6 separate regions of the Homo sapiens genome follow, and all the other regions are linked to region 1. The links come from fine-mapping of genetic effects on gene expression. A gene starts in region 1. Each other region holds a variant in brackets. All regions are shown on one strand. Distances are between the middles of the regions.

What was found. PIP is the estimated chance that this variant, and not a neighbour inherited with it, causes the effect.
Region 2: its variant is fine-mapped to the expression of ZNF592 in whole blood (TOPMed, PIP 0.98).
Region 3: its variant is fine-mapped to the expression of ZNF592 in whole blood (TOPMed, PIP above 0.99).
Region 4: its variant is fine-mapped to the expression of ZNF592 in whole blood (TOPMed, PIP 0.96).
Region 5: its variant is fine-mapped to the expression of ZNF592 in left ventricle (GTEx, PIP 0.98).
Region 6: its variant is fine-mapped to the expression of ZNF592 in whole blood (TOPMed, PIP above 0.99).

What each region holds. Positions count from the first base shown.
Region 1 is chr15:84,745,533-84,750,930 of GRCh38, forward strand. ZNF592 (zinc finger protein 592) reads left to right here and starts at 3,060. Exons shown (of 11, transcript NM_014630.3): 1 at 3,060-3,132. RefSeq lists enhancers at 2,212-2,511, 2,584-3,423, 3,952-4,031 and silencers at 2,582-3,001, 3,062-3,551.
Region 2 is chr15:84,691,744-84,696,743 of GRCh38, forward strand. The region is part of intron 1 of SEC11A (SEC11 homolog A, signal peptidase complex subunit); the gene reads right to left. Among named protein-coding and RNA genes, the nearest start is that of SEC11A, 22 kb to the right of the region's middle. The variant T/C (reference allele first, on the strand shown) is at 2,429.
Region 3 is chr15:84,615,733-84,621,130 of GRCh38, forward strand. ZSCAN2 (zinc finger and SCAN domain containing 2) reads left to right here. Exons shown (of 3, transcript NM_181877.4): 3 at 4,870-5,398. LOC105370947 (a long non-coding RNA gene) reads right to left here and starts at 680. Exons shown (of 4, transcript NR_186225.1): 1 at 527-680. The variant A/C (reference allele first, on the strand shown) is at 3,190.
Region 4 is chr15:84,815,191-84,820,588 of GRCh38, forward strand. It overlaps ALPK3 (alpha kinase 3), which reads left to right and starts at 2,166. Exons shown (of 14, transcript NM_020778.5): 1 at 2,166-2,405. The coding sequence starts at 2,263. RefSeq lists enhancers at 1,264-1,794, 3,922-4,453, 4,454-4,983. The variant A/G (reference allele first, on the strand shown) is at 3,223.
Region 5 is chr15:84,960,663-84,966,060 of GRCh38, forward strand. It overlaps a transcript of SLC28A1 not described here. Among named protein-coding and RNA genes, the nearest start is that of PDE8A, 18 kb to the right of the region's middle. The variant C/T (reference allele first, on the strand shown) is at 2,563.
Region 6 is chr15:84,827,066-84,832,463 of GRCh38, forward strand. It overlaps ALPK3 (alpha kinase 3), which reads left to right. Exons shown (of 14, transcript NM_020778.5): 3 at 419-540. Among named protein-coding and RNA genes, the nearest start is that of ALPK3, 12 kb to the left of the region's middle. RefSeq lists an enhancer at 1-396. The variant G/A (reference allele first, on the strand shown) is at 2,346.

The sequences.
Region 1 (5,398 bases):
CAAGTGATTCTCATGCTTCAGCCACCCAAGTAGCTGGGACTACAGGCGTGCCACCACGCCTGTACTTTTAGTAGAGATGGGGTTTCACCATGTTGGCCAGGCTGGTCCCATACTCCTGACCTCAGGTGATCCACCAGCCTCGGCCTCCCAAGTAGCTGGAATTACAGGCATGAGCCATCATGCCCAGCCCTAATATTTTTTTCTTTCGAACCCCATAAATATCTTTTAAAAAACACCTTTCTTAAAAATACTTTTAAAAGCTACTTAAAGATACCATTTCCCTGCTTCCAGGAGAAATATACATGCACTATAAAAATAAGAAAATATAGATGTCACAGAAGAAAAGTCTCATTTTAAAATCTACGCATTATACTTATTTATGTATATTTATATATTACCATCTGCTATATCACCTTATAATGTGCTTTTAATTATAAAGATTTCCCACATCATTAAATCTTTTTATTTACCATGATTTTTAATGGCCACAAACTCTAGTTTATTTAACAATCATATAACTATAATATAATAATATAATATTGGGCATTTTTCCTGCTTATAGGTAGGGTGCAATATTTTGAGGTAATATAAATGGACTAATATCTGGGATATGGTGACAAATCTTCCAAAGAGCACAATATTTTTTGCAAACAAGAAATTAGGGCCTGAGATAATTAGGAGAAATGTAAGTTCCCAATGAAACTCTGGAGATATTGGCAGGTATGCTGGGTTTCTTAAGTGGTACACAGGTTTGGAGTCAATTGTACTTAAATTTTAAAGGACAGTGACCCCAGCTGCCCTAAGGATGATTGTAGAGGGTAATCCAGGCAGCTGATCCATGGAAGCATGCATGCCTCCCTACCTCAAAATATTTCAATCTTTATGCACTCTTTAAATCTTGTAGGAAGAGGCGGACTTCTCTGACTTTTTGCTCACCCCTTTCCCCCTTCCCATCTACTTTTCCTTTTCTGGTTTCTTGCACCATCAATTATCCTACATCTATCTGCCATTCTCCCCTCTCAGCTCCTTTAGTTAAGGTCTCCCCACTCAAGTTAGGAAAAAAAAAAAAAAAATCACCGGCCAGGCATGGTGGCTCATGCCTGTAATTCCAACACTTTGGGAGGCTAAGGCAGGTGGATCACCTTAGGTCAGGAGTTCGAGACCAGCCTGGCCAACATGGCGAACCCCCATCTCTACTAAAAATACAAAAATTAGGGCCGGGTGCGGTGGCTCATGCATGTAATCCCAGCACTTTCGGAGGCCGAGGCGGGTGGATGACCTGAGTTCAGGAGTTTGAGACCAGCCTGACCAACATGTTGAAACCCCATTTCCACTAAAAATACAAAATTAGTCAGGCATGGTGGCGCATGCCTGTAATCCCAGCTACTCGGGAGGCTGAGGCAGGAGAATCGGTTGAACCCAGGAGGCAGAGGTTGCAGTGAGCCGAGATTGTGCCATTGCACTGCAGCCTGGGCAACAAGAGCGAAACTCTCTCTCAAAAAAAAAAAAAAAAAAAAAAAAAAAAAAAGCCAGGCATGGTGGCGTGCGCCTGTAATTCCAGCTACTTTGAAGGCTGAGGCTGGATTATCACTGGAACTCTGGAGGTAGAGGTTGCAGTGAGCCGAGACCACGCAATTGCACTACAGCCTGGGCTGCGAGACCGAAACTCCGTCTCCAAAGACAAAAAAAAAAAACAAAAAACAATCAACTTTTCCCTTTACTCTTTTGCAGAGAGGGAGGGTCTCGCTATGTTGCCCAGGCTGAACTCAAACTTCTCGGCTTAAGGGATGCTTTTGCCTCAGCTTCCACAGTAGGACCCAACTTTCTCCTTTACTCTTGGTACTTCTTGAGCTCCAGGCCTACTTTTCTCTCTCTCACTGCCAAACATTTGAAATCATCACCCTTTATTAACTCCATTGCTTCATTGGCTAACATACTCTTTAGACAAGCTCTTCAACTCAGTTCTGTGCCTGGTGCACAGCAGGCTCCGGCTGCATGTTAGTTCCAGCCATCTTGCACATTTGCATCTCCTTCCTGGAGAAGGAATTTCTCCATGGTTAGCAGTGTGTGCTCACTCCTAGTCACCAGGGCCTCATCTCCGTGTTCCCACACCCTGACCTTGCTGCCGCCCTAATGCTGCGGACCCAGTTTCCAGGTACGCCGGGTTCTTGGAAGGTCCTGCCGGTCACCCTCCCAGCCTTCTGCCAGACTCACTGAGTTCTCACCCTGCACAGTCATCGTTTCCCCAGTAACCCTGAGAGATCTCCCAGTCTACCTCTTCGAGGCACCCGTTGCCAGTCCTCCATCTCTGTTTGCCGCGCGTCCCTCGGTTACCCCAGAGGCAACACGTCAGGCTGCCCCGCACCTCCAAGCCTGCGCGAATGTCCTTGTAGCCAGCTATGACCAAACATTTAGGGCGCACCTGAGCGCCAGGCCCACGCCACCCCTGCTTGCTTTCACTTAACAGCCTCGACTAGGCCCCCTATGCGCCAGGTCTCAGTGAAGAGGACGCAGTCCCGGGTCCTGGGCGCTCTTTGCCGGGCGAGACAGCTGCGTAGGCAGATCCTGTTCCTCTAGTGGGCGGCCTCGGCCCCTGCCCCTGCCCCGAGGCGCGTCAGAGGACAAGAGGCCCAGGTCGCTGGCAGCGGCTGCCTGCCCGACCGCACAGGGTGCCTAGCACGGGTGGCGGGGACTGGAGCCGGGCGGGGGCCGGCCGGGGTCGGGGGTCCAGCCCTGAGCGGCGCCGTCCCCGCCCCGCCCCGTCCCGTCGCGTCCCGCCCCGCCCTACCCGCCGCCGCCGTCGTCGCCGTCGCCGGGCCTGCGCCGCGCAGCCCGCCTCGGGCGGGAGGCGGGAGGCGGGAGGCCGGGCCCAGGCCGGGGCAGCCCCTCCACCGCACCGTCCTGGGCCGGTGCCCAGGTCCGAGTCGCCTTCCGCCTGCCCCCCCCCCCCCCCAATCCCCCGCCGCGGCAGCCCCAGCCAGGTCCCGCCGCCAGGCCGGCTCCCGCCCCCGCTCCGCCCCCGGAGCCGCAGCCCCGCCCGCCATCGCCGTCGCCATGTTGTGGCTCCCGCAGCCGGCGCTGGGGACGCGCGCGGCCGAGACTCTGGCCTGCAGTCGCCGCCGCCGCCGCCAGGTAAGCGCCCCCCGCGGGCCGGGCCGAGCGGGGCCTGCGGGCCGGGGCAGCCCCAGCCTGGGCCCGGGAGGATCGCAGCCGGGACCGAGTCCGAGCCCGAGCCGGGGCCCGGCCCTGCAGCCTGGCGGACCCTGGCCGCCGCCAGAGGCGGCAGCCACTTCCCCCGACCGCCGCCTGGCGGGCCCGGGCCGCCACCCCACCCCGCCCCCGGCCGTCGGGCGCCGGCCCCTTCCGCCGCTGCGACCGCCGCTGCGACCGCCGCTCCTTGGCAGGCCGGGCACGCTGCTGTCCTCCGCGCTGGGCGGGACGTGCGGCCGCCCTCGGCGATAGCCGGCGGCCCCCAGCCCGGGCACGGATAACGGTGCCACTTTCTCCCTCTGGGACGGCCTGTCAGCCCGACCGTCCCCGCCGCCCGAAGAGCTGTCGCCGTCACAGGGCAGACACTTCGGGGAACGACCCTCTTTGGCGCTCCTCAGTACTCCCCTCCCCTGAGCCCAAGTTCTGACCCTGAGGAAGGTTTCTCCCGGAGCAGACAGGTATTCCTAGAGCTCCAGAGTTGGGGTCCTCAGGGGTGACCAGGCCTGTTGATCAGGGTGAAAATTGTCTCTCTGCAAGGGCTCTTCCTGCCAACGAGGGGGTTGGCGGGAGGCTCAGTGTGACCTGAGGGAGGACAGGAGAGCGTCTGCTGGACAGATGGCCTCCTGGCCTTGGATCAGCGTTTGTGAGGGGGAGGGGTCCGTATGACCTTAGGTATGCCTGCTCCTGAGTACTGCAGGATTATTGAAGCTGTTTAGGGATTTTAAACCATTTTTTGAGTAGGCCAAAGGTGGCATTAAAGGTCCTGGATTGGAATAAGTCCACAGGCCCACCCAGGGAAGCATGTTTGGCATCCAGGACTAGTCTAGAATAGGACTGGCAGTAGAAGAATGGGACTTGGGGAGTAAGACGGTATTTGGCTTATGGTTTGCCCACTTGAGTTCAGGCCTGTGCTCATGGAGGGCCTGTAGGGTGCTTCTGTCGCGGGTGCAGTGTGGTGCACAGTGTGGCAGAGTGCGGAGGATGTGGACAGACAGATTCCTGGCCTGGTGGATGCTTGGTGGTATTTTAGTAGTCTGTTTCCTCAACCTCACTGTTACGTTACACAGTGAAAGGGGCAGAAGTGTGGTGCTAGTGCGTCCATTTTGATCATTTTCCAATTTTTCAACTAGTTGTGGCTTTGATTCATTAAATAAATTTTTACTGAGCACTTACTCTGTGCCAGGCACTGAGCTAGGTGTTGGGAGTACATTGGTAAGCCAGAAAGATACCATGTTTTAGTTCTTAGCCATTGGGAAAGTCTAATAATTAATAGTCGTGGCCGGGCGCGGTGGCTCGCGCCTGTAATCCCAGCACTTTGGGAGGCCGAGGCGGGTGGATCGCCTGAGATCAGGAGTTCGAGACCAGCCTGACCAACATGGTGAAACCCCGTCTCCACTAAAAAAATACAAAATTAGCCGGGTGTGGTGGTGCATGCCTGTAATCCCAGCTACTTGGGAGGCTGAGGCACGATAATTGCTTGAACCCGGGAGGCGGAGGTTGCAGTGACCTGAGATCGTGCCGTTGCACTCTAGCTTGGGCTACAGAGTGAGACTCCATCTCAAAATAAATAAATAGTCGTGGAAATTTATTCAACAACAAATATTTGTCAACAAATACGTGTTAGGCATTGTTCTAGATGCAGTGAACAAAGAAAGCAAAAATGATTGCCCTTGTGGTGCTTTCCTGGGAGTGGGGGAGAAGACAATAAATAAAATATATAACAAAAATATAGTCTGTTAAAAAGTGTGAAATGCTAAGGAGAAGAAGGAAGCAGGGAAGGAGAATCTGAGGTATCAGGGGTGGTAGTTGAATTTATATTATACGGTGGCCTGGGAAGGCTTCCTAAGAAGGTGTCTTTCGAGTAAAACTTGGAAGTGGTAAACTAATAATTCAAACTATAGTGAATATAAGAAGAGAAAGCTGAAGAGAGGGGTAAGAGACCGATTTGAGTTGGGGGCTCAGGGAAGCCTTCCCTGGGGAAGTGATGTTTAGGCCAAGATCTGAAGGAGGGTTAAGAGTTAACCATGTGTGGAGCTGACTGTAGCAAGGAGGAAGTGAAAGAGGCCTGTGGGGCTGGAGGGGGAAAGGGAGAGGGGAGATTAGTCTGGAGACTAGGGCCAAATTAGAGCAATGGGGCCTTGGGGGCAGAATGCCTCCCTCCTTAGTTTGGTTTGTATCTCCAGTGTAA
Region 2 (5,000 bases), 54 kb before region 1:
GGACAACTACAGTTCTGAGACATTCTTTAATACATTATAATAATTATGCCATCAGCAGATCAAAACAGGCCCCCCTTCTTTCACCCAAAGCACCCTGCTCCATTTTGTTTGGTAAAACATCAGTTACATTTATATAACACCATATTATTTTAAGAACATTTCACACAAGTTATTTCATTTGGGCTCCATAATCATTCAGCTTAAATTTATCACTCATGCTACTTACCAGCCAAGAGTAATCTGTCTCTGCTTCTGAACTCCTCTATTACTTTTTCTTTTTCTTTTTTTTTTTTTTTTTGAGATGGAGCCTCGCTCTTGCTCAGTCACCCAGGCTGGAGTACAGTGGTGCCATCTCAGCTCACTGCAACCTCTGTCTCCTGGGTTCAAGAAATTCTCCTGCCTCAGCCTCCCGAGTCGCTGGGACTACAGGCATGCGTCATCACGCCCAGCTAATTTTTTTGAATTTTTAGTAGAAACTGGGTTTCACCATGTTGATCAGGCTGGTCTCGAACTCTTGACCTCAAATGATCTGCCCACCTCCACCTCCTAAAGGGCTGGGATTACAGGCGTGAGTCACCACACCCGGCCCTCTATTACTTTTCTACTATACTTATCCCTTGATAATCATGGGAATAGTTAATGACATTTAACTCTACCTTCTCATTTTACAGTTAAGGAAACTGTCTCGAAAAGAGGAGACTTCACCAAGTCCTAAGCTTATCAGTCACATAGTCAAGACTTGAAGGTCAGCCTTCTTACTAAATTTCCAGTACTCCAACAAACTCTAAAATTCTGTGACTTGAATAAACAGATAAAACACCAGACGGCATTTCAATTTCAAATAAAGAAAATTCAGAACACGTGGAAAAAGGCAAAAAATATTACAAAATCAGATAAGATAAATAATGTGAGCTAACTGTTTTGGGCCAAGGCTGGAAAAAGTATAGAGAGGATGACTAGACACCATGGCAAATAGTTCAAGGAAAAAGCTGGTACTGGAAAGTACTGGGAGAAATCTGAAAAAGCATATATTAAGGTCCAACTATGAAGAAACTTAAACACAGGACTGAAACTGTGGATCTAACAAAATATTAGTAATATAAAGTGAAAAAACAGAAGTTTCAAAAGGTCTTACTCTGTTGCCCAGGCTGGAGTGCAGTGGCACAATCACAGCTCACTGCAGCCTCCAACTCCTGGGCTCAAGCAATCCTCCCACTTCAGCCTCCCGAGTAGCCAGACGTGGTAATTTTTGTATGTTTTGTAGGGATGAGGTTTCGCCATATTGCCCAGGCTGATCTTGAACTCCTGGGCTCAAGCAATCCGCCTACTTCAGCCTCCCAAAGGGCTGGGATTACAGGTATGAGCCACCATGCCTGGTCACTTTTGTTAATATTTGCTTGTGGACATTCTACACAACTGTCCTAGTCTCTTCAAAAATCCAATGTCATTCAATGTCATGGAAAAAAAGGTGGAAGACTGTTCTAGATTAAAAAGTACTAAAGAGATATAACAACCAAATGTAACGCACAAACTTTGGTTTCTTTGTTGTTTTTTTCTTCTCATTCAGTTCTAATAATGCACAAACTTTGGCTGGATCTTGGTTCAAAAAAAAAAAAGCATAAGAAAAAATCTGAATATTTTGGGGTGAACTGGGGAAACTCAAAATATGATTTGAATATTAAATGACATTAGGAAATTCATGTTTTCTTTTTTTCTCTTCTTTTTTTTTTTTGAGACAGGGTCTTGCTCTATCACACAGGCTGGAGTGCAGTGACATGATCTCAGCTCACTGCAACCTCTACCTCCCAAGTTCAAGTGATTCTCGTGCCATAGCCTCCCAAGTAGCTGGGATTACAATGGGCATGCATCATCACGCCCGGCCAATTTTTGTATTTTTAGTAGAGACGGGGTTTCACCATGCTGGCCAGACTGGTCTCAAACTCCTGGCCTCAAGCAATCCACCCGCCTTGACGTCCCAAAGTGCTGGGATGACAGATGTGAGCCACTGTACCCGGCCTCTAATTTTCTTAAATTATGTGATAATGGTGTTGTGGTTATGTGGAATACTATCCTTATCACAGGAGATGCATATTAGTAGTAGTTAGCTAGTAGTTGTAGTTAGGGGTGAATTCTCATATCTGCAACTCATTTTCAAGTGATTCAGCAAAAGAAAATTCTATATATGCACACACACATAAGTATACATAGAACAAATATGGCCAAAATGCTAATAATTGTTGGATCTGTGTGACAGATTACAGGTGTTCCCTGTACTGTTTTTTCAATTTTTTCTGAAAAATTCCAAAAAATGCATAGAAAATATGGAAGAAGCCAGGTGCAGTGGCTCACATCTGTAATCCCAGCAATTTGGGAGGCTGAGGTGGGTGGATCACTTGAGGCCAGAAGTAGGAGACCAGCCTGGCCAACA[T/C]GGCGAAACCCCATCTCTACTAAAAACACAAAAATTAGCTGGGTGTGGTGGGACATGCCTGTAATCCCAGCTACTCAAAAGGCTGAAGCACAAGAATCACTTGAACCCAGGAGGCGGGGGTTGCAGTAAGCTGAGATCGCACCACTGCACTCCAGCCTGGGCAACTGAGCAAGACTCTCTCAAAAAAAAAAAGGAAGAAAATAAAATAAATGTTAGTTGTTATATTTGGGGGTGTAATACTAGGCAATTCTTATTTATTTCATTTTGATCATCTACATTTTCTACTTCCCTTTTTAAATCAATTGTTATTTTTAATCAAAACAGTATACACACATACATACAAGAATATGTAAAAAAAAGCAATATCCTAGCCATGGCAGGCCACCTACATCAACCATTTTCATCTCTTCTAGCTATTCATTCTGGTGTTTACCCCAACCACTCTAAAAACTGTTTGTTTACTTTCATACTAGGGTGTTAATGCATGATGTTCAAAATGTACAATGAGGGGCTAGGCACAGAGACTCATGCCTGTAATCCCAACACTTTGGGAGGCTGAGGTGGGAGGATCACTTGAGCCTAGGAGTTCGAGACCAGAAAGCAAGACCTTTATCTCTACAAAAAAAAATACAAAAAAAGGCCGAGTGCAGTGGCTCACGCCTGTAATCCCAGCACTTTGAGAGGCCGAGGCAGGCGGATCACGAGGTCAGGAGTTTAAGACCAGCCTGGCCAACATGGTGAAACCCCATCTCTACTAAAAATACAAAAATTAGCCAGGCGCAGTGGCGTGTGCCTGTAATTCCAGCTACTCGGGAGGCTGAGGCAGGAGAATTGCTTGAACCCGGGAGGTAGAGGTTGCAGTGAGCTGAGATCGCACCATTGCATTCCAGCCTGGGCGACACAGCAAGACTCCATCTAAAAAAAAAAAAAAAAAAAAAAAAAAAAAGAAGGTAGAGGAAAATTTAGCACACTAAATAGAGATGCGGATGATTAAAAAAAAATATCCAGAGGCTGGGCTCGGTGGCTCACGCATGTAATCCCAGCACTTTGGGAGGCCAAGGCGAGCAGATCACCTGAGGTTGGGAGTTCGAGACTAGCCTGCCCAACATGGAGAAACCCCCATGTCTACTAAAAATACAAAATTAGCTGGGCTTGGTGGCACATGCCTGTAATCTCAGATACTCGGGAGGCTGAGGTGGGAGAATCGCTTGAACCTGGGAGGCGGAGGTTGCAGTGGGCCGAGATCGCACCATTGCACTCCAGCCTGGGCAACAAGGGCGAAACTCCGTCTCAAAAAAAAAAAAAGAAAAATTAGCTGGGTGTGGTGGTGCATGCCTGTAGTCCCAGCTCCTTGGAGGCTGAGGCAGGAGAATCACTTGAACCCAGGACGTAAAGGCTGCAGTGAGCTATGATTGCCCCACTGCATTCTAGCCCAGGTGCCAGAGCAAGACTGTGTCTCAAAAAATAAATACAATTGTGATGAGGAATCCAGCTCTCTTGTACCATTTTCTATTTTCTCCCTACAATTAACCTGTTTTTCCTGCATACTTTTTAAAAACATTTCAAGTTTCATATTCTTCACACTTGATCTTAGCCAAAAGGCCGAGAAGCGATCAAGTTTCATATTCTTATAAATGCACAGTTAATCTCTGAAAAGACAGACAAGAAACTGGAGAAAAGGAACCAGGAGTCAAGGTGGAAGAAAAATATTTTCTGATATACATACTTCATGTTTTTACAGTTTTTACTATATGCAAGTATCACCTGTTCAAAACTAAACTGTTTTGGTTTATTTTTTTAAGTCCACGCTAATGGCCAGAACACTATTCTTCTAGCATTCCAATGAAGCACGGTGTACTCAATCAATGTAATTAATCAATTTCCACAAAAGGAAATATGAACATTTTCGCCGAGACAATTAGAAATATTTGCTGTTCTTTCAGTAATAGAGTGATGTGAGCACATGGATAATCTGAAACCTACTTTGACACTCACATTTACAGGTAAGGAAACTGAGGCACAGAGAAGCTAAGCGACATGCTCATGGCTGCTTGTCTACTGGCTGGCAGAGTAGCACTATTAGAACTCTGGCCTCCTAAATTCTATGTTTTCAAGATGGTGGCTTTTTAAAAGACAAAATGGGTCTTCTTATTCTGAAGGCTGAATTGAAGACGTGGAGTGGGACATGATAGAAGTAGGAAAACTAGCTTCTAAGACACAATTATGTCAACCAGAAGATAAACAGTGAGGAATTCAGTTAAGACTCAAATTTCCAACTTTCTGCACTAAAAATATCACCTACAGTACTGGTTAGGACAATAGATTCTGGGCCCTAATTCAGAACCTCTGAGGAAGGGGTTGTAGGATTCTACAATGTATATAGCTCCATAATCCCTTACTCAAAACCCTTGGGGGTCAGATGTGTTCCAGGATTCAGAATGGGTGTGATTTTGAAAAGGTAATACTTGCATGTACCCTATGTTACATATACTCTTAGCAGGGTTTATGGCAATATCCCAATATCAAACACATTAAGATTTTGGCAGCAAAACAAAAATTCACACTGAAGTAA
Region 3 (5,398 bases), 130 kb before region 1:
TCCAAGATGCCTATTCCCATTGCGCTCCTTTTCCTGTTGTCTTCATTTCTCTGGCTGATTTTCCCTCCTTTCCTGAGTTCTTCTAGTGTACATTTAATCTCTTCCTGTTGTCTCACCATCCCTTCTTCAAGCTCTTCTCTGTGGTATTCCTTTATAAAGGCAGTTGCCTCATTTAATTATTTTTATGGATGGAAATGATCACTTTTCTCAGTAATAGTAATTCCTTGGGCCGGGCTCCAGCCTATAATCCCAACACTTTGGGAGGCCGAGGCAGTTGGATCATTTGAGGTCAGGAGTTCGAGACCAGCCTGGCCAACATGGCGACACCCCATCTCTATTAAAAATACAAAAACAATGAGCCGGGGGTGGTGGTGTGCACCTGTAATTCCAGCTTGTCAGGAGGCTGAGGCAGGAGAATCGCTTGAACCTGGGACGCAGAGGTTGCAGTGAGCCAAGATAGTGCCACTGCACTCCAGCCTGGGTGACAGAGTGAGACTTCATCTCAAAAAAATAAATAAATAAATACCTTGGATTAATGTGCGTGGGTCAAAGGCTCTTTCCTTCTCTGCTTTCCAGAAACAGCTTCCTGCGTACATGGCTGCCCTGTGTGATTCCAGTTGCAGCCTCACCTCCTTTGCCTCTCTGAACCAAAGAAGCCAGCCCTGCTTACCCCAGTTCCCAAACACAGGAAGTGATTTTCTGCCTGAGCTTTCTGAGTTCTGTTCCCTCCCACCCCAGGGCTCTCCATGCTTATTCATTGCATTTCCTTCCTCATTGCTTTTACCCAGTCTGCTGTTTTGGGAAGCCCTGACATGTATTTTGGTGCCTACATATTTTATCTTCTGATCTCACTGAAAATAAAATTGGATTTTACTTGTTTTCCTTGTTGCTTCCGAGCTCATTGGAGAGCTAACCAGTTCTGATTTTAAAACAGCAAAAACAGCCTTATTAGCTAATGTTACCTATTCAATTACTAAAATCACCCAAAAAAATGTTTTTGGTCATGTTAGTTTGCTAAAAATTAATCAGGGTCTTGGCCTGCAGGTTCTTCTAGAAGAGAGATGCTGGCAGGGCTCTGTGCTCAAAACTTGCCAAAAAACTGTCTTCCGGCCAGACATGGCAGCTCACGCCTATAATCCCAGCACTCTAGGAGGCGGAAGTGGGCAAATCACCTGAGGTTGGAAGTTCGAGACCTGCCTGACCAACATGGAGAAACCCTGTCTCTACTAAAAATACAAAATTAGCCAGCCATGGTGGCACATGCCTGTAATCCCAGTTAATTGGGAGGCTGAAGCAGGAGAATTGCTTGAACCCGGGGAACAGAGGTTGCGGGGAGCCAGGATCGCGCCACTGCACTCCAGCCTGGGCAACAAGAGCGAAACTCTGTCTCAAAAAAGAAAAAAAAAAAAACTGTCTTCCATGGCCAGGCGCAGTGGCTCACGCCTCTAATCCCAGCACTTTGGGAGGCCAAGGCGGGCGGCTCACTTGAGGTCAGGAGTTTGAGACCAGCCTGGCCAACGTGGTGAAACCCTATCTCTACTAAAAATACAAAAATTAGCCAGGCGTGTTGGCGTGCGCCTGTAGTACCAGCTACTCAGGAGGCTGAGGCAGGAGAATTGCTTGAACCTGGGAGGCGGAGCTTGCCCTGAGCCAGGATCGCGCCACTGCACTCCAGCCTGGGTGACAGAGTGAGACTCCAAAAAAAAAAAGACTGTCTTGCAGGAAGTTGAGGAAACACAGAATTCCTGGTTCTGCCGAGTCAGAGTATACCTTGTGCCCCTTGTGCCTGTATCTGTCCCCTAGTGATATGAGGGGTGGGGCTGGAGGGCAATTCTGTGAACCCACAGATTACCAGCAGCATGTGTCAGTGTAAGCATGGAGTTTAATTATATGCCTGTTTTCAACTTTAAAGGTGATCTTATGGCCAGGCATGGTGGCTTATGCCTATCATCCCAGCACTTTGGGAGGCCAAGGCAGGAGGATCACTCAAGCCCAGGACTTTGAGACTAGCCTGGGCAACATAGCAAAACCCCATCTCTACAAAAATACAAAAAAATTAGCTGGGTGTGGTGGCATACACCTGTGTAATCCCAGCTACCTGCAAGGCTAAGGTGGGAGCGTCACCTGAGCCCAGGAAGTTGAGGCTACAGTGAGCTGCGATCTCGCTACTGTACTACCGCCTCGGTGACAGACTAAGACCTTGTCTCAAAAAAATAAAAAATAAAAATAAATGTGATCTTAAATTGACTGAAGGCAAGAGTGGAGCCCAGGTCCTGCCTGAGAGGGGCATGTCCAATTTTATCATGTTCATATGTAAGAGTTTATATTAACTTACAGAAAATTAATTGAGCATCTAACCTTAAATAAAGTTTTTTAGCTTTAATAATAGAAATGTCACTAGGAGTTCGAGCGCGATAGCTCACACCTGTAATCCCAGCACTATAAGAGGCCCAGGCGGGCGGATCACCTGAGGTCAGGAGTTTGAGACCAGCCTGGCCAACATAGTGAAACCCCATCTCTACTAAAAATACAAAAATTAGCTGGGCGTGGTGGTGTGCGCCTGTAGTCCCAGCTACTCTGGAGGCTGAGGCAGGAGAATCTCTTGAACTCGGGAGGCTGAGGTTGCAGTGAGCCTAGATCTCGCCACTGCAGTCCAGGCTGGGTGACCAAGTGAGACTCTGTCTTAAAAAATAGAAAAAAGTGCAGCTTTTTTTAGGATTGAGGTCAAGAGGGAAATTTCCTCCTCAGGCTCATCAAGAGGACATTGTGTGGTATAAACAATGTCATCAACAACTTCCTGGCAGCATTAATGTTCCCAACAGCCATTAATTTTTTTTTTTTTTTTCGAGACAGAGTCTTGGCTCTGTTGCCCAGGCCGGAGTGCAGTGGCGTGATCTTGGCTCACCAAAGCGTCCACCTCCTGGGTTCTAGTGATTCTCCTGCCTCAGCCTCCCAAGTAGCTGGGATTACAGGTGCCTACCACCATGCCCAGCTAATTTTTTTGTATTTTTATTAGAGACGGGGTTTCACCATGTTGGTCAGGCTGGTCTCAAACTCCTGATCTCAGATAATCTACCCACCTTGGCCTCCCAAAGTGCTAGGATTACAGGCGTGAGCCACCATGCCCGGTGTCAGTCATTAATTTCTAATGACACTTCTTAGAGTGTCAGCCAGGGCTATGAAGCCAAC[A/C]CACTATTCAGTAAACACAGTTCTGCCGGGGGTCAGAACAGTGTGATCCAGGCTCAGCTCTCTGCTGCTTTGGCCTCATCCTCGGGTAGATTTTACAGTCCCTCATCTAAGGAAGGGGCTATGTTCTTCTAGCAGTCCTCCCTAATGATTTCTTTTACTCAAATATTTGGGCACTGGAAGGTTTAACAAGTTCCTGGAAGACATATTACCAATTAAAGATCTATTCATGGCTGGGCGCGGTGGCTCACGCCTGTAATCCCAGCACTTTGGGAGGCCGAGGCGGGCGGATCACAAGGTCAGGAGATCGAGACCATCCTGGCTAACATGGTGAAACCCCGTCTCTCTAAAAATACAAAAAATTAGCCGGGTGTGGTGGTGGGCGCCTGTAGTCCCAGCTACTCGGGAGGCTGAGGCAAGAGAATGGCGTGAACTGGGGAGGCGGAGCTTGCAGTGAGCCGAGATCGCGCCATTGCACTCCAGCCTGGGCCACACAGCGAGACTCCGTCTCAAAAAAAAAAAAAAAATCTATTCATAAGCTCCCACTGCAGACAAATTTGAGGGCTCTTTTAACAATCCAGTTAACTTGCTTCTAGTCATTGGTATACACACCTAGGGTCCTTATTGCACGGGCTCTGTCATCTTTCCTGTGTCTAAATACAAAGTAATGCGGTCATAAACACCAGATACATGTCAATACAAGAAATTATTATATAAGCTCCTTTTGAAAGGAGACTGAGCTTTAGGGAAATGTCTATGGTACCAATAAAAAAACTCATTCATGCACTCATTACATTGAATCAAGCACCAGGCATTATGGTGAGTGTGGGGGTAATTGGGTAGGTACCCTGTTTATGTCCTTTAAAATTCCCACCTGACCTCATTTTCAGATGAAGACACAGGTAGTGGGGACATGGAACCCAAATCTTTAAGGCTTTGAAATTCTGGGTGATTGCCACAAAGATTATGAGGCCTGACAACCAGTCAGAATGAAATAAGCCTGGGTTGGTTTTTTTTTTTTTTTTTTTCCATCAGCTTTTAGGTTCAGGGGTACATGTGCAGGATGTGCAGGTTTGCTACAAAGGTAAATGCGTGCCATGGTGGTTTACTGCACAGGTCATCCCACCACCTAGGTATTAAGCCCAGCATCCATTAGCTATTCTTCCTGATGCTCTCCCTCCCCCTCCCCCACAGGCCCCAGGGTGTGTTATTTCCCTCCATGTGCTCATGTGTTCTCTTCATTCAGCTCCTGCTTATAAGAGAAAAGATGCAGTGTTTGGTTTTCTGTTCCTATGTTAGTTTGCTGAGGATAATGGCTTCCAATTCCATTCATGTCCCTGCAAAAGATATGATCTCATTCTTTTTTTTGGCTGCATAGTATACCATGGTGTATATGTACTACATTTTCTTCATCCAATCTATCATTGATGGGCATTTGGGTTGATTCTATGTCTTTGCTATTGTGAATAGTGCAGCATTGAACATGTGTGTGCATGTATCTTTATAATAGAATGATTTATATTCCTTTGGGTATATTAAACCTGATTATTAAAGGCTTTGAGGATTTTCTAGCCTCTTTGTGTTCACTGGAAGTTTAATTTTTATAAATTTCCCCCTTCGTTTTCTTTTGTCATCATGACAGGGAGTTGAGTAGACATTGTATGTTTTTCTTCATTGTTTCAGATTTTGAGATACAGAGTGAAAATGGGGAGAACTGTAATCAAGACATGTTTGAGAATGAATCACGTAAGATATTCTCGGAAATGCCTGAAGGTGAAAGTGCTCAGCACTCCGATGGGGAAAGTGACTTTGAGAGAGATGCTGGCATCCAGAGGCTCCAGGGACACAGCCCAGGTGAGGACCACGGGGAGGTGGTTTCTCAGGACAGGGAAGTTGGCCAGCTCATAGGCCTGCAGGGCACCTACCTAGGGGAGAAGCCCTACGAATGTCCCCAGTGTGGGAAGACCTTCAGCCGGAAATCCCACCTCATCACACACGAGAGGACCCACACAGGAGAGAAATACTACAAATGTGATGAATGTGGAAAAAGCTTTAGTGATGGTTCAAATTTTAGTAGACACCAAACCACTCACACCGGGGAGAAGCCCTACAAATGCAGAGACTGTGGGAAGAGCTTTAGCCGGAGTGCCAACCTCATAACCCACCAGAGGATCCACACGGGGGAAAAGCCCTTCCAGTGTGCCGAGTGTGG
Region 4 (5,398 bases), 70 kb after region 1:
TACTTCCTTCCTTGTAAAACTGTCCTAATACAGGCAGAACTAACCACTGTTTTCTCTGTACTTTGGTGCTTCCCTATACATAGTTTTAGAATTGTATGTTTTCCCCTGCATCGTATGTTGCCTGTCCCACCTATTAGACTGTGAGCTTCTTGCAGGCAGAGACCCTGTGACCCCGGCCTCTAGCACCTGTGCCCTAACCTGACCCATGAGTGTTCACATGCTTTCCCACCCACCCCCTTTTTTTCTCTGCTGCTTGAACCAGCATACACGATTTAAACAAATGAACCAGAACTCCAAGTGGGTTTTCAAATATTTGAAAGACTACCCTGTAGATGACTGAAGATTCTGTGCACCTCCAGAGAGCCAAGAGCAAGAATGAATGGGGACATGTGATCAAGAGATGAATTTGGGATCACTAGGAGAGAACACATTAGTATTGGTCAGGATACTTCTACCAACAGAAGCCTAAATTGGAAATAGCAAAGGGAGAACTTTTTTGGTACACAGATTCCAAGGAAAGTTTGAACTGCCAACCTGCAGGAAGGCCAGGGACAAAGCTGGAACCCAGGAACACCTGAACGAGGGCACCTGAAAGCCACCAGGACCCTGTGTCCTTTGCCTCTGCTTCTCTCTGTGCTAGCTTCCTTATTCCTCACTGTAAACTGGCTTACTCTACAGGGCAGGAAACATGGCTGCTGACAGCTGTGGCCTCACAGCTCAGTTTTCCACCACAGAGGGTCTGGTTTTCTTTCCCAATTCCAGTTAAAAATGTTTTAGAGAAGAACTTTATTGGCACAGCCAGGGTCTATAGTCAGGGAGATTGGGTACCGTGAATAGCCTGGCTTGAGTTTGATGGCAGTCAGCTGAGGCCAGGAGTGGGATCATGTGGGAACAAGGTAGTTGCCATTGGAACCACACGGAGTAGGGGAAAGCCATTTCCAAAAGGAGTAGGGATGGGTGCAGCTTCGAAAACAGAAGGGTTGGACTCCTTTGCTCCCACTTTCTAACAATTACAGCCATTTAGCTTCAGGTACTTTCTGGATGCTCTCAGGAAAATAGGAGAAAGAAGGATGGATAAAAAAGTCTGTGGGCACTTCCGGCCGGGCGCGGTGGCTCACGCCTGTAATCCCAGCACTTTGGGAGGCCCAGGCGGGCGAATCACGAGGTCAGGAGATCGAGACCATCCTGGCTAACACGGTGAAACCCCGTCTCTACTAAAAAATACAAAGAAAAAAATTAGCCGGGCGTGGTGTGGGGCGCCTGTAGTCCCAGCTACTCGGGAGGCTGAGGCAGGAGAATGGCATGAACCCGGGAGGCGGAGGTTGCGGTGAGCCGAGATAGCGCCACTGCACTCCAGCCTGGGCGACAGAGCCAGACTCTGTCTCAAAAAAAAAAAAAGTCTGTGGGGACTTCCAATATTTAGACCAGGTTTCGGCAGTGCTTGGCACTAGTTCTTGGAAATTGTTGCATGATTTGATTATTTTTCTGGGTATCAGGACTCAGCCCATTTCCCCCTCTGGTGCTGAGAAATGGAGGCCGAAGGAGTGATCTAGAAGTGTTAATTGAGCCCCTAATCTATGCTAGTTACTGGGGGTGTTGGGGGAGACAGGAGAGAGATCCCACGGGGTTCCGGCCTCCCAGGGACTCAGGTCACTAATGGAGGTGGCTTGGCTTGTCTATGTGCTGGGCCAACAGCCACTGGCGAGGCAAGGCGAGGGTCAGTCACGGCTGGTGCCAGGAAGAGGGCTGGTTCTTTGGCTCCCTGGTCTCCCGCGGTCTAGCCCAAGCTGGCCAGCGGTTGACCTGGCTCCCCTGGCCCCGGCCAGGCCTCGTGGACCCCTCATATGCCACACGGGACATGAGCAGGCCGGCCGGGAGCCGGGTCCCGGGAGCTCCACGAAGGGGCCTGTCCTCCATGACCAGGACACCCGCTGCGCCTTCCTCCCGAGGCCTCCCGGGCCTCTCCAGACGCGGCGCTACTGCAGACACCAGGGCCGCCAAGGGAGCGGACTCGGAGCCGGCCCTGGGGCGGGCACATGGGCCCCGGCGCCCCCCGGCGTCTCCAAGCCGCGCTGCCCGGGTCGGGCCAGGCCAGGGGAGGGACAGCAGCAGGTGACGACGGCCCGGCCACCGGCTATAAATAGGGGCGCGCGTCAGCCGCGGGCGGGAGCGGCGGCGGCGGGCAGGGGCCCGGGGGCCGGGGCCTGGAGGACAGGCGAGGCAGCGGCGAGTGCGGGGCCGGCGGTCGGGGAGGGCGGTGCCATGGGGTCGCGGAGGGCCCCCAGCCGGGGCTGGGGCGCGGGTGGGCGGTCGGGGGCGGGGGGCGACGGTGAGGACGACGGCCCCGTGTGGATCCCCAGCCCAGCCAGCCGGAGCTACCTGCTCAGCGTGCGGCCCGAGACCAGGTAAGTGGCACCAAGGGGCAGGGCGGCGTCGGGCCGGCGATGCCCTGGGATCAGTCCCTGTGAGGGCGGCCTGGCCCCTGGAGGCCTGGGCTGGGCCTGCGCCCTCGAGCCCTCTCAGCCCCAAGGCCCAGGGCCTGGGGACATGGCCGGGCTGGAATGGCTTTCATAGCCCCTTGTGACCCCTCCTGATCCATGCGCCTCAGGCCTCTGGCAATTCGAGGCTCAAGAGAGGACAAAGGCTCCACTTTGGAGTGATTTCATGGGGTCTGAAGGCTTTCCTTATCTCCCCTGCCCCCTACCCTGCTACTCCCTGGCTTGGGATTCCACAGCTAGCGATAAGGAAAGCCAGAGTGGCTGAAATTCCTCCCTGGCAGGAAGGGAGGGGGAGAGCACTGGTGGGGACAGGGAGAGGGTGCTGGGGGGCTGCCCAGAGTAGGAGCTGCTTAGCTCAGGGTGGGGAGGTTCTCCAGGAAGAAATAAACCTTTGTAAATAAGGTTCCTCTACTGGGCCGAGGACTTGGGTCCTCCCCAGGACCTGAGTGGGGGCTGGTGAGATAGGGGGTGGGATGAGGTACTGTCTGGAGATGTTGGGAATTAAGGACTTGCAGCTCTGAGGGAGCCAAGTGCCCTGTCCAGTTTGGGGAAGTGAAATGCCAAGGGAGGTGTGGAACTGATGAGCCCTTCACTGGTCTTCCAAGAGTTCAAGAGGTGTGGAAGCTTTGTTTTAGCAGCTAGGCCACCCACAGATATAAAGACACAAAGACAATAGACAGGCATCCAGGAAATCAAAGGCACACAGGCACACGTGGACAGGCGC[A/G]TTGCCATGGAGACAGACACTTCCTGCCCCCTGTGGGCAGCTCAGTTTCCCTTCACTTCTGGAGTCTGTTTTCCAAAGGGAAATGTGTTGAGATAGTGGTTGTTTCATAGCCTGAGAACTTGACTTGTGTATTATGCAGAAAACGGCCATTCCTCCAAGAGGCTGTCCAGAGACCTCTTGTTCTCCATTCCTAAAACAGCATAAAAACAGGCATCGAGGACATTCAGGAAAAGTCCTGGGCACTTCCTCGTGAATTGGCTGAGTCCTACTGACCTTGGAGTTGGGAAAGTTCAAATGTAACCGGAACCGGTTTCTGCATAAAACTCGTCAAATGGTGTCACATGTCTGGGGCAGGGCTGAGGACTGATGTTAGTGACTGAGTCAGACTCAACAAGGCCCCTGGCTGCCAGGAAAGAATACCCCTTTTTCTTACTCCTGGCTCTACAGATAAACCAGAATGAAATTTGGACATTTATTCCAGTCCTTAGAGAAGCTGACTCCCTTGTGGGAGCCTCACATTTGTCACAGTGACTTGTCTGGGCTTTGCCTCCTGTGTTTGGCCTTTGTCAATACCAGTGGAACAAACAGAAGAGGCGGAACCAGGGTCCTTCTTGGAGACAGCAGCAATGAAGGAAGGGAGGAAAGAGTGCCTTGAAAACCAGGCAGAATGGGGAGGGCAGGGGATCTGGGCTTTTAGGAAAAGGGCTGGAGAATGGACATAGTGCTGCTGCCTGGCTGAGCAGTTGTATGATAGATAAATGTTAATTGTACACCTCATGAGCACAAAGCTTGTGCCAGCCTGAGAGCTAGAGGCAGGATAGAAGTGGCTGGCTTAAGTCCCTTTGGACCTAAATGGGAATGTTCTTAAAAGGAGTCTCTTTCATCAAGTATCTGGAGGGGGCAGGACAGCAGGAGTGGGAGAAAGCTTTGGACTTTGGGCTGTGTTTTGCCCCTGCAGAGTTTTTTACTGCTCCTGCTGGCTAGCCACAGACCCCTAGAGGTTCTGAGAGACAAGGACAGCCAGATTTATCAGGCATCTGGAAAAGCCTTTGGCCAAAGTGGGGAGAATGTGACTGGGGCTGCAGTGGGGAGTGGAGGAGGCGAGGCAGTTCCTGCTTCTCTAGTAAGGCCTGACCTGTGTTGGAGGGAGCCACCGTACTGTCTGCTGTCCCTCAGAACAGCCTCACTGCCTGTGGGGGTGGGGAGAGCTCCCTAGAGATAGGGAGAAAGACAGTCCCTCGAGAATTTTGCCAGCTATGTTGGCTCCAGCCCAGCTGAGCCCTGACTATGCCAGAGTCCTGACTGAGAGGCAAGTTCTGTCCCCACTCACTCTTGGCTCCAACATCTTCTGGGTCTACCTTCACAAAGATGTGTCATGGAGCTCTCCAGGCATCATTCTCATGGACCCTTGTGAGGAGGGGCTACCCCTGGGAACTGATGGACAGCTGAGCTGATGGACACCAGAGGCCTTGGTGGATGGCCCAGAACCTATCTCCCTATGCACCTCTCTCTGTCCCACAGCTCTGAAAGGGTTTCCAGTCCATGTCGGTGCAAGAATATTTCCAATGCCCACTGGGGTCAGAGGTCTCACATGCAGATAGTCCCACCAAACTGTAGGCCCAGCCCCCAGGTCACCCGGCATCTAGGACCTCACCCCCATAGAACAGTGAGATGTGGGTAGGCTAGAGAAGTTAAGGGGCCAAAATTGAGTAGAAGCAGTTTTGATTTTTTTTTTGAAGCAGTTATGATTAATTAGCTTTTATGGGACACTCAGAAGTTCCAGAAACCCCTGCCCCCTGGATTCTTGGAGGCCCTGGTCCAGGTGGGCTCAGAGAAGTCACAGAACCTATGATGTTACTACAGACAGCTTTGAAACAAGCTCTGCTGTTCAGCATGGGTCAGCCAGGCTGTCTAGGGCTTTTAGGGAACCTGAGGTATCAGGCCAGGACTGTCCAAAGGCCTTTTATGTCCCAGACTAGATGAAAGCCAGGAGGGATGGAGGCCCCCAGCTTTCGTGGTCAGTTCTAGTTTTCCGTAGCCTACTTCACTCTTTTATGTATTTATTATTTTAGTGTGTTTTTTTTTTGAGATGGAGTCTTGCTCTGACACCCAGGCTGGAGTGCAGTGGCGTGATCTCTGTTCACTGCAACCTCCGCCTCCCAGGTTCAAGTGATCT
Region 5 (5,398 bases), 220 kb after region 1:
CTCTAGGCTTTCAACTCCGCTTCCTGTTTTCAGCCCCACCTTCGCCCTCGCTTTTGCAGTAATAGGTGCCTCCAGTTCCTGAGCTTCACAGTTCAGCTTTATCAGCTCTGCTTCCAAAACTGTGTTAACATTCCTTATCTCTCCTGTTGCTGCTCTCACTCTCTTAGTCCTTATTGCTTTATAAATCTTTTCTTTCTTTCCCCTTTTTTTAGTGGAGTTTTGAGCGACAACAGTGCTAACTACAGGTGCTCTCAATTCAGCATGTTTAACTGGCTGATCCTGAATTGGCTTTGCAGGGACAGAATAGCAGGGTGAGGGAAAGCCTGGGCTTTAGAGCCAGACACATACATGGTTGAGTTCCGGCTCCACTTCTTCACATCCCTGTGTGTCCTCGGGCAAGATAATTTCAGGTTTCTCATCTGTAAAATGAGAATATCACCTCCGAACTCGTAGGGGTGTTGTAAGCATTAACTCTGATAATGCAGGCATTTTTGCCTAGCCTTATCTGAATGCAAGGCCGTGCTCTGAACCATCCAAGCAGCCTGCCTCTTTTGAGAACAGCGTGACTCAGAAAGGGGCTTCTCTTTTCAGCCTGGATTTCAGGATAAAGAAATGCATGGAATAGAGCCGCAGCAACCTCAGGTGACTCATTCTGTGAGTGAGAGAGAATTTTTTTTTTTTTTTTTAGAGACAGGGTATCACTCTGTTGCCCAAGCTGGGGTACAGTGATATAATCATGGCTCACTGTAGCCTCAACCTCCTGGGCTCAAGGGATCTTCCTACCTCAGTCTCCCAAGCAGCTGGGACTACATGTATGTGCCGTCACACCTGGCTAATATTTTATTTTATTTTATTTTTTGTAGAGACGAGGTCTTGCTATGTTGACCAGGCTGGTCTTGAACTCCTGGCCTTAAATGATCCTACTGCCTTGGCTTCCCAAAGTGCTGGGATTACAGGTATGAGCCACTTTGCCTGGCTGAGAGATAAATCTTGATGGTCGTAAGACACTAAGATTCCGAGACTGTTACGGCAGCATCATTTAATGACAGTTAATTAATACAGCAGCAGTTTAAGGTGGTCCAAGTACTCCAAGATGTTGGGTGAGAGAAGCTCATGCCAGGTAAAGTCACTAACTAGGTGAGACAGCCAGGAAGAGTTTGGGATTCACAACGGCAGCACCTACGACAGAGATACTGCCCTTCATCAAACCACTGGGGCAAGATGATTCATTGAAATGTTACCCTGTGCTCATTTGGTTTACATTTGCTCCTCCCCTGGCTCTTTCAAGCAGAGAGTGAGTCCCTTGGTGTTTCCTTGCCTTGGGTATTTCTGGTGGTCAGAGCATAAAAGCTATCGGAAGTTGGTGGGTCTTTCTGTCTTTTGCAATAATCTTGACCTAAATTTTTTTTTAAATTTCTTAATTATTTTTAGAGACAGGGTCTCACTCTGCCACCCAGGCTGGAGTGCAATGGTGTGATCATAGCTCACTGAAGCCTCCAACTCCTGAGCTCAGGTGATCCTCCCGCCTAAGCCTCCAGAGTAGCTGAGACTACAAGTGCTCACCACCATGCCCGGCTAATTTTTCTTTTTTGTAGAGACAGAGATCTCGCTATGTTGCCCAGGCTTGTCTCGAACTCCTGGCCTCAGGTGATCTTCCCTTCTCAGCCTCTCAAAGTATTAGGATTATAGGTGTGAGCCACTGCACCCAGCCTTCGTTGACTCTTTATAGAGACTCTGTAAGGTGTCCTGGAAAGAGAAGAAAGAAAGGGTGGGCCTATGATTTTTTGTTTTTTGAGATAGAGTCTTGCTCCGTCGCCCAGGCTGGAGTATGGTGACATGATCAGGGCTCACTGCAACCTCCATCTCCTGGGCTCGGGTGATCCTTCCACCTCAGCCTCTGGAGTAGCTGGAACTATAGGTGCATGCCACCATGCCTGGCCAATGTTTTGTATTTTTAGTAGAGATGGGGTTTCACCATGTTGCCCAGGCTGGTCTCAAACTCCTAGTGCTGGGATTACAGATGTGAGTCACTGCACCAGGCCAAGGGTGGGCCTTTGAGAGCAGGAAGAAGGGAGAGGAAAAGATTTTTACCCCAGAAGGGAAAGGGGCAGAGTGTGACTAGGGCTGGGGGTAGGGAGGAAAGGTCTCAAACCTTGACTCTAGGCAGTGTCCAAAGGTGACAAGGCCTTAGAGGACATGGCTGCCTGGTACACTCAGGGAGAGTGGATCTGAGCACAGAGCTTTCGCCCCTCCCTCACAATTCCCACATTCCAAGGGTGACTCCAAATCAGCAGAGCCACCAAGCCTGAGGTGCCACAAGGCTGGGATGATGGATGTTCTGCATTTGCTAGTGTGACCAGTGGAGCCAGCCTGACGCCTCAGCACTGCCTAAGACCCTGGGACCTTGGCAAAATCTTGAGAATGGGGGAGGGAGACTCAACGATATGCCTGAGATTGAATTTCTTGCCAGCTCAGTGGGATAGTGGCTTAGAGTCAGATTTAAATTGAATTAGAAAAAATCAAGAAACAGGCCAAACCACTCCAGCCTTGCAATCCCTCGGG[C/T]TATCCCTAGCCACACCCCTTACTCTCATGCTCACCAACAAGCAGTGCCTACCACCACTGGATGCCCCATGTGACCCATAGCTGAGGATCTTTATACACCCTCTCCCCAGGAGTGGGCATCCACTTGTGTTTCCCTGGACAGGGAGCTTCCAATCTTCCATCCTGAGGTCCTGCTAGAATGGGCTGTTAGAATATTCCCTCACTAGATAGAGGGGTGGGGAAGCAGGAGTCCAGTTTCAGAAGCAGGGAAGGGACTACAGTCATAGCGAGTGGTGGACACGTGGCGGAGGGTGGGACACCCTTTCACAAAGTGGCCCATCACACCACAACACAGTATGGGACAGGGCTGGCTTCTCTTCAGCTCTGGCATGGCCAGGGAGGGTACCTACCTGGGGTCCAGCTGCCCCCCCGAGCCTGTCTATCAGCCATTGTACACCAGGCCAGTCCATGATGGGGTTCACCCAGGATGAGACCTGGACAGCAGCTGAGCCATGCAGAGCAAGTGGGTGGTTAAGAGGCAGATGGTCCAGTTGGTGCTTTCAGGCAAAGTGCCAGCTCCTCATCATGGCTCATGAGGATGCTTAGATCCAGCCCCTGATGACCCCCTATTTCACCTCTAGCCATTTCCTAGCACAGCGCCTCCTCTGTCCTAGCTCCAGCCTCACTGAGCTGCTTTCAGTCCCTTGAAGGAGTTGCACTCTCCTTCCTCTCGGCTCTTCCACAGGCTGCTCCAGACGCTTGACCACTCCTTTCTTTCATGTACCTAATTCCTACTCATCCCTCAGGACCCAATGTGGCTGTCTTCTCTAGGAAGCCATCTGAACTTATAAGTTGAGTTAGGAGTCTGTTCTGGACCTCCCACAGCACCCTGATTCTCCTGTCTTGGCCCCTGTCATACCTTGTGAAGTCTTGTTTAATCATCTATCTCATACATGTCAGTATGCTTCTGGGGGAAGGAAATGTGTCCATCTTGTTTAAAACAGTATCTTTAGGGCTTGATGTCTAGTGAGGGAGGAAGGGAAGGGGAAGGAAACGATAAGGGCATGGGAAGGAAGGATGGAAGGAAGGAGGGAAGGAAGAAGAAAAGAAGAGAAACAGGGAAGGAGGCAAGGAAGACATTGAAGGAAGATTGCCCACTCCTTTCAGGGCACTCATTGCCCCAACAGATCTTCCCAGCAGGAGCAGCTGCACAGAGATCACCTATTCCTTCCTCTCACTCAGTAGGAGACATGCTCTTTATTGGTTAGAATGATTGACATTACCCAATATCAATTGCAAGTAACAGTGCATTCAATAGAAAATGGTTTACATGATGTGAGATTTTTAATATCTCACATAGTAGCAACTCCAGGGGTAAGTGGCTCCAGGGTTAATCCAGGCATCAATGATGGTACCAGGGACCCTGGCTCTTGCCACCTCTCTGCTCTGTTATTTTGATTTTATCCTTGGATTGACCCCTTGTGGTCACAAGATGGCTGCTGAAGTTCTGGACATTACACCCAGACAGGGCCATGACTAGTAGAAAAGGCTTTTCCTCCCATGCATTCATTAGATGGGAAGAATCTTTCCACAGAAGCCCCAGCAGATATTTCTTTCTATCCTGGGATTAAGCCAGAGGCCCATGCTGTAGCTGCAAGGGAGGCTGGAAAAGCAAGTGCGTCTGCAGCTGGAAGCAGACTGCCAACATAGGAGCAGGAGGGAATGATTGATGCTTCCCTCTTTGTCTTACCTGTAAGGCTTGAGACTTCCTTGCCTTTGAAGATCCTCAGTATGGAATGCCAGTGCTTGGACCTTGATATGGTTTGGCTGTGTCCCCACACCCAAATCTCATCTTGAATTATAGTTCCCATAACCCCACGTGTCATGGGAGGGACCTGGTGGAAGGTAATTGAGTATTGGGGGTGGTTACCCCCATGCTGTTCTCATGATAGTGAGTTGAGTGAGTTCTCACAAAATCTGATGGTTTTATAAAGGGCCTTTCCCCCTTTGCTTGGCACTTCTCCTTCCTCCCACCATGTACAGAAAAATGTGTTTGCTTCCCCTTCTGCCATGATTGTAAGTTTCCTGAGGCCTCCCCAGCCCTGCAGAACTGTGAGTCAATTAAACCTCTTCCCTTTATAAATTACCCAGTCTCAAGTATTTCTTCATAGCAGTATGAGAATGGACTAATACAGACCTGCAAGGCAGTTTTTTGGTGGCAATACATGGAAGTCTCCTCTCTGGATTTAGGCTGGAGACTGCTTGTTGATTCCAATAGCCATTTTCCCTTCTTTTCTTATAAGTGTATAGTTGGATATATGGCCACCCAGAATAAAATCAACATGTCCTGGCCTCCTTTGCGGTGGATGGGGGCACATAACTAAGTTTTGGCCAATGAGATGAAAGCAACATGCTATATAACTTCCAAAGTATACCTAAGAGAGGGCCATGCACTTCTTCTAGGATGACCAACTTGTCCTGGTTTGCCTGAGACTTTACTGGTTTTAGCACTAAGAGTCCTGTATCCTAGGAAATCTCTCGGTCCTGGGCAAGCCAGGATAGTTGGTCACATTCTCCATCCCTTCCTCTTTCCTTCTGGCTAGAATGTAAGTGTGATAGAGGCCATTGTGGAGCCCCAAGTGGAAGCCACATACTGAGGATCTCACAAGATTAGGCTGTTAAGCTGGAGGGAGGCGGGGAGGGGGGGGAAATATTAGGCTGCTGGAATGGTGCAGGCACATTGATTTTAGGTTACTCAAATTGTTTCTATAGAGAGGGGTCCTGAGCCTAGATCTCTGATTAATCCCTTTAGGTGTCAGTGATCTGAGAGAAAAACAAACTTCTATGTTGTTGGTAT
Region 6 (5,398 bases), 82 kb after region 1:
AATGAAGGCTCTGCTATGCTGGGGGCTCCATCTCTGAGGCTTGACCTACTTATCTGTGTGTCTCCCTCATGCACCAGTGTCCCTGGAGATGAAAGGTGCAGGGTGAAGTAAGGCCCCTCAAACAATGATGGGATGGGACACCTGGGCTTGTAGACTGGCATGCTCAGGAGCCTGGCCCATGGTCAGTAGCTTGCCTATTGTAATGGGTCTGGGCCAGGATTCCATTCAACCCCTTGATACCTGGCCCCAGCCTGGCCAAGAGGCACAAGCTGCCTTGAAGAAAGACTTGCCGGGGTGCTGCAGCTCTGGCCACAGGAAGATGGGCAGGCATGGTAAGACGGAAGCTGCCTTGGACAGGCCAGGCTGTGCTGTTTGTTGTGGGGAAGGCCAGCTCTGAATAGCTCTTTGCCTCTCTTAGGAGCACCTTCTGCTCCATCATTGCTCAGCTCACAGAGGAGACCCAGCCGCTATTTGAGACCACGCTCAAGTCCCGGTCTGTGTCCGAGGACAGCGACGTCAGGTTCACCTGCATCGTCACAGGTAAGGATGCTGTCTGTATGCTCCATGCCAGGGCCTCTGCACAGAGCAGGGTCCAAGGAGGCTGTGAGGACAGGAATGGTGGGGTGGCGGGCTGTGTGCACAAAACTACGTGAGGTGACATTTACTTTCTGAGCTTTCTCTCTAGTTTAACATCCCTGTGTGGGCTGGTGCCCCTTGCTTCCCCCATTCTGGAGCCACATATATACCCTACTCTTCTTCAGAACCTGTCCTCAGTGAAGGTTCCTGACCCTCAGGGATACATCCATGACTAATGGCCTTATTTGTTGCAAGAAAAGAAGTACTCCAATGGAAAGAGATCTTTGAGGCCATCTCCCTGAGTATCCCCATGTTATAGTTGAGTAATTTGAAGGTTGGGAGTCTCAAGCCTGAGAGGAGAATTGCATGTGGTGATTCTGACTACAGACCCTGGAGGCAGACTGCCTGGCTTGGAGTCCTGGCTCATCCCCTTTCCAATGATGTTACTGAGCACGTTATATAACCTCTCAGCTGCCTCATCTGTAAAGTGGGGATAATGATAGGATGCACTTCATAGGGTTATTTGAGACTGAATGAGTTAATACATGCAAAGTGTTTGGAGTAGTACCTTATGTACAGTAAGTACCACATAAGAGTTAGAAACTGACTGTTACTTGCATTTCACTGAGCTTCGTGATGGAATTTGAAGCAACCGTTTGGCAGAATAGGAAGCAGAGTGATACTCCTTGGAAGGGGAAGATAATGGGTGGGAGTGCTGGGAGGGTGGTTCCAGACATTGCCTCTCCCCCAGATCACCCAGTAGAGACTCCAACCTGACCAGCCTCAGGGCCCGCAGGACCCACAAATGGGTACCCACCCCTCCCAGCTGTGCAGCTATTAGATCCCAGGCCCAGGCTCCCTCTGGAGAGCCTGTTGTTTCTGTAAGTCAAGGTCATTCGTGGTTTCCAGCTGTGAATTCTGGCGGACTTGATTACCCCAGCCAGTAAACAGCTTCTCACTTGGGCAGTTCTCACCCTTACTCAACCCTCTGAGCTGCAGACTGAGAACACTCTCTGCTCCGAGCGACATAGGTGTGCATCCCATACCTTTGTATGGCGTATGGTGAATTTCGCAAGTTGTCTGTTTCCATTGTCATTGCATTCTTACAAATCCCTATGAAGTAAGTGCTATTTTTAGTCAAATTTTACCAAGGAGGAAGCTGAGAGAGGCTGATGCGTTGCCAAAGTCCGCAGCACTAGTGAGGGAGACACTGCTTTTGCTCTCCGGCATCTGATGCTGCTTCCCGCCTGCATCTCCTGTGTTACTGTGGCACTTACAGTTTCCTAGAAAAACCCGGTTCTTTCACAGCTTCATGCTTTTGCACATCTCATTTTCTCTATTTAGAAAGTCCTTAATCCTTCTTTTTAAAGAAAATTAAATTTTACTTTGTCAAATAAATATATGCACATAATTAAGACTTCAAATTATACTAAAAGGCATATTTCAAAATACAGCAGTTCACCCCTCTCAATTTGTCTTCCCAGAAGCAACTGTTTTCAGCTTTTAGCTGTTTCTTCTGGCATGTATACATTTCCATCATGCTGAGTACTACGTGAAATTCTTCAGTTTTAGATGTTCTCTATTGTCTTCCTGTTATGGTAGATAAGGAATTAGCTCTTTTATACCATCATTTTCTCTGTTTCCCTGAACTTATCTTCTTCATATAATTATGTTGACAGCAGTTGTGGAACTTTGGTTCTTATCTTCTTAGTTTTAAAAACTTGAAACAAAAGACACACAGCAAAGGAGATAGAACAATTTATTGCAAA[G/A]GAAAAAGAATACTGTAAAAGTTAGGTGCAGAATAGACAGGACACCCTGAGAGAGAGAAGATTCAGCATGGGCTTCTCGTGAGGATGAGACAGCAAAGACTGGTACCTAGGGCGACTCCGTTTCTGTAAGTCTTACATGATTATTCATGAGGAGGTAGGAAGCGGTGTTGCTCCTAAGCATGTTCTGGGTGGTCCTCTGGGTGCACATGCGCAGTAGCTGTACATGCTGTTTATACATCGTGAGTATCTGGGACTACAGGCGCGTGCCACCACACCCATGCTAATGAGACATGCATCTTAAATCTCCACCCAGGGGTGTGCTTTTTACTATTACAATGAGCAAAGGGTGAGTTTGAGGACAGGTAAAATCAAAATGCTCCTGCTCTCTACATGGGAATTCCCTACTGGAGATAGCTTTGCTTGAAAGAACTTTAGAATGCTCATGCTGGGGCTTATTGTGTTGACTGTATAGTCCGGATGGTTGCTGTGTCCTGAGGACATGGTTACTTCCTTGACTCTTATTAATGATAGTTTTCTAAAACTATCCTGCTTCAGTTATATCATAATTTTTGCTTTAATCAACATTTACTGTTTACCTTATTATGCCTATACAATATTATTCATAACTGAACATTGTAGCATACTATGCTTGTATTTTTTCTTTTGTTTTTCCTGAGGTTAGTACTTTCCATAGTTTTTCATTTGTTTCTTTTTTTTGTATCTGTTGCTAATTTTTCTTATACCTCCTAATAGCCTCTTAATACGATATTCTGCAAGGTCAATGACATCAGTAATCTGGCAGTTACTTTCCTTGGAGATATTCCTCTTGGAGCTCTCCATTCTTCTTTTATCTGAACTGCTAGGCTTTTAGGGCCTGATACACAGCTGTTATCCTGGCTCTTCCCTTTGCTTTTCTGTGGATTTAATTCAGCTTCCTGGATCTCATGTCTTCCTTTCTTGGTTTATTTTTTTGCGTTATTGAATACTGCCCCAGTGGTTTCATCAGGTCCTGAAGATGGTGCAGAGGGCATAGTGATGGCAAGGTCTGGACCTTGCTCTCCCTTGAGTCCCTCTGGTCTAATGTGCCTTCGTTTCTCTGCATCTGGTACACAGTTACCATCCTCTAGATTTGGTTTACCTCTCTTCTGTGGTAACTTTCTGCTTTTTGTATTCTACATTTTTTTCTTTCTTGATTTACATTCTTATTTTGGCAGCTTTCTAGAAAGAGTACATGGGAAGTAGATGTTGGATTCCTTGTGTCTGAAAATGTTTTTGTTTGTTTGTTGGTTTGGTTGGTTTGTTTTTTGAGGCAAGATTTCCTCTGTCACCCCGGCTGGAGTGCAGTGGCATGATCACAGATCACTGCAGCCTCAACCGCCCCGGCTCAGGTGATCCTCCTGCCTCAGCCTCCTGAGTAGCTGGGACCACAGGCATGTGCCACCACACCCAACTTATTTTGTGTGTGTGTGTATGTGTGTGTGTGTGATAGAGACTAAGTCCTACTATGTTGCCAGGCTGGTCTCAAACTCCTGGGCTCAAGCAATCCTCCCACCTTGGCCTCCCAAAGTGCTGGGATTATAGTAGGCATGAGTCACTGTGCCCGGCCTCTTTTTTTCTACTTTACTTTTTCTTGCGAATTTGGCTGGGTATAGAATTATAAGCTGAAAATAATTTCCCTTCAGAATTTTAGACATTGTTCCATTATCTTTTTGCTTCCAGTGTTGCTTTTCAGAGTGAGAAGACAGTTTGATCCTAATTCCTTGCATGTGACCAGTTTTTCTCTCTGGAAGCTTGTAAGAGTGTTCTGGTATTTCATAATGATGTATTTCGATATGGGTCTCTTCACCCTGGAACATGCTTAGATGCTTTCAGTTGGAAACGGAGAGCCTTTAGTTCTGGGAAATTTGATTTTATCCTCCTGTTTTCTGTCGTCTTACTTTACAAACTCCTGTTTGGATAGCTGTTCCCCTGGTCGTGGACTTTTATTTTCTTATCCTTTATTCCCCTTTCATCTATTTGTCTTTTGCTCTACTTTCTGGGAGATTTCCTTAGTTTTATCTTTCAACTCTTCTACTGAATTTTAATTTCCAAGGGTTTTAATTTTTGTCATTTTCTGTAGCATCCTGCACTTTTCATGAATGTAGTATCTTTTCTTAGCTCTCTGAGATGCTTATTAATGATAGTTTTCTAAAAGCTTCCTTTTCCTTGCATAGTTTTTCTTCTGTCTTGCTTTTTCTCTGTTTAATTTAATTTTGTCATTAATCTTCGATTGTAGGCTTTCCTCCCATATCTAGAAATCTTTGGCTGTCAGATAATGAGCAAGAGTAGGAGACTTAAAAGCTGATCAGAAGTTCTGAGCAAGGAGGAGGGGCCTGAAAACTTGGCTGTTTACTGTAGGGTGACCTAGGTAGCCACTGTTGGGAACTGCCAAGTAAGTTTCTTTAGTTCCTTCCTCTTGAACTTGCTAGGTTTCCTAGCGAAAGGTTTTCTGGGAGTTATGCAGATCAGAGGGTTGGGTGGGCTCTCAGCATAAGACATTTATTTTATGATATATGGTTATTACATTTTTCTATTTTTCATAGAATAGTCATGCCCTCAGTTATGCTGGCTTACTCTCAGGGCAGATTTTTACATTTCCAAATAATAAACTTCATCTTTGGCTGTGGTGGGGAAGGAGCAGTCATCCAGTGAGATAGAATGGTTGAAGGGTTCCAAAGATTTATTTTTTAAGCATCTTTGAACCTTTCCTCCTTCCTCTTTCTCCCAGTTCCAGAGGTACCAAATTGCCAATTCTTAGGCCCTTTGGGGATTTTCTGGTGTCGAAAGGATAGTTCTCAGTTTTCTCCACTGCTAGCTTAGGGTTGAGCTGTCTTGAGTCTGCTAAGTCAGTTTCCACTTGTCCATCTGCTTTCTAACTTTCAAAATTTTGTTGCTCCTATTACTCTCCTTGCCTGTTCACTTCATCTTTGTGCTTTTACATATGTTGATTAAAAAGTCTTTTCAGGGCAGTTTAGTGAGTTTGAGGGAGGGTATGAAGATAGATGGCATGTTCA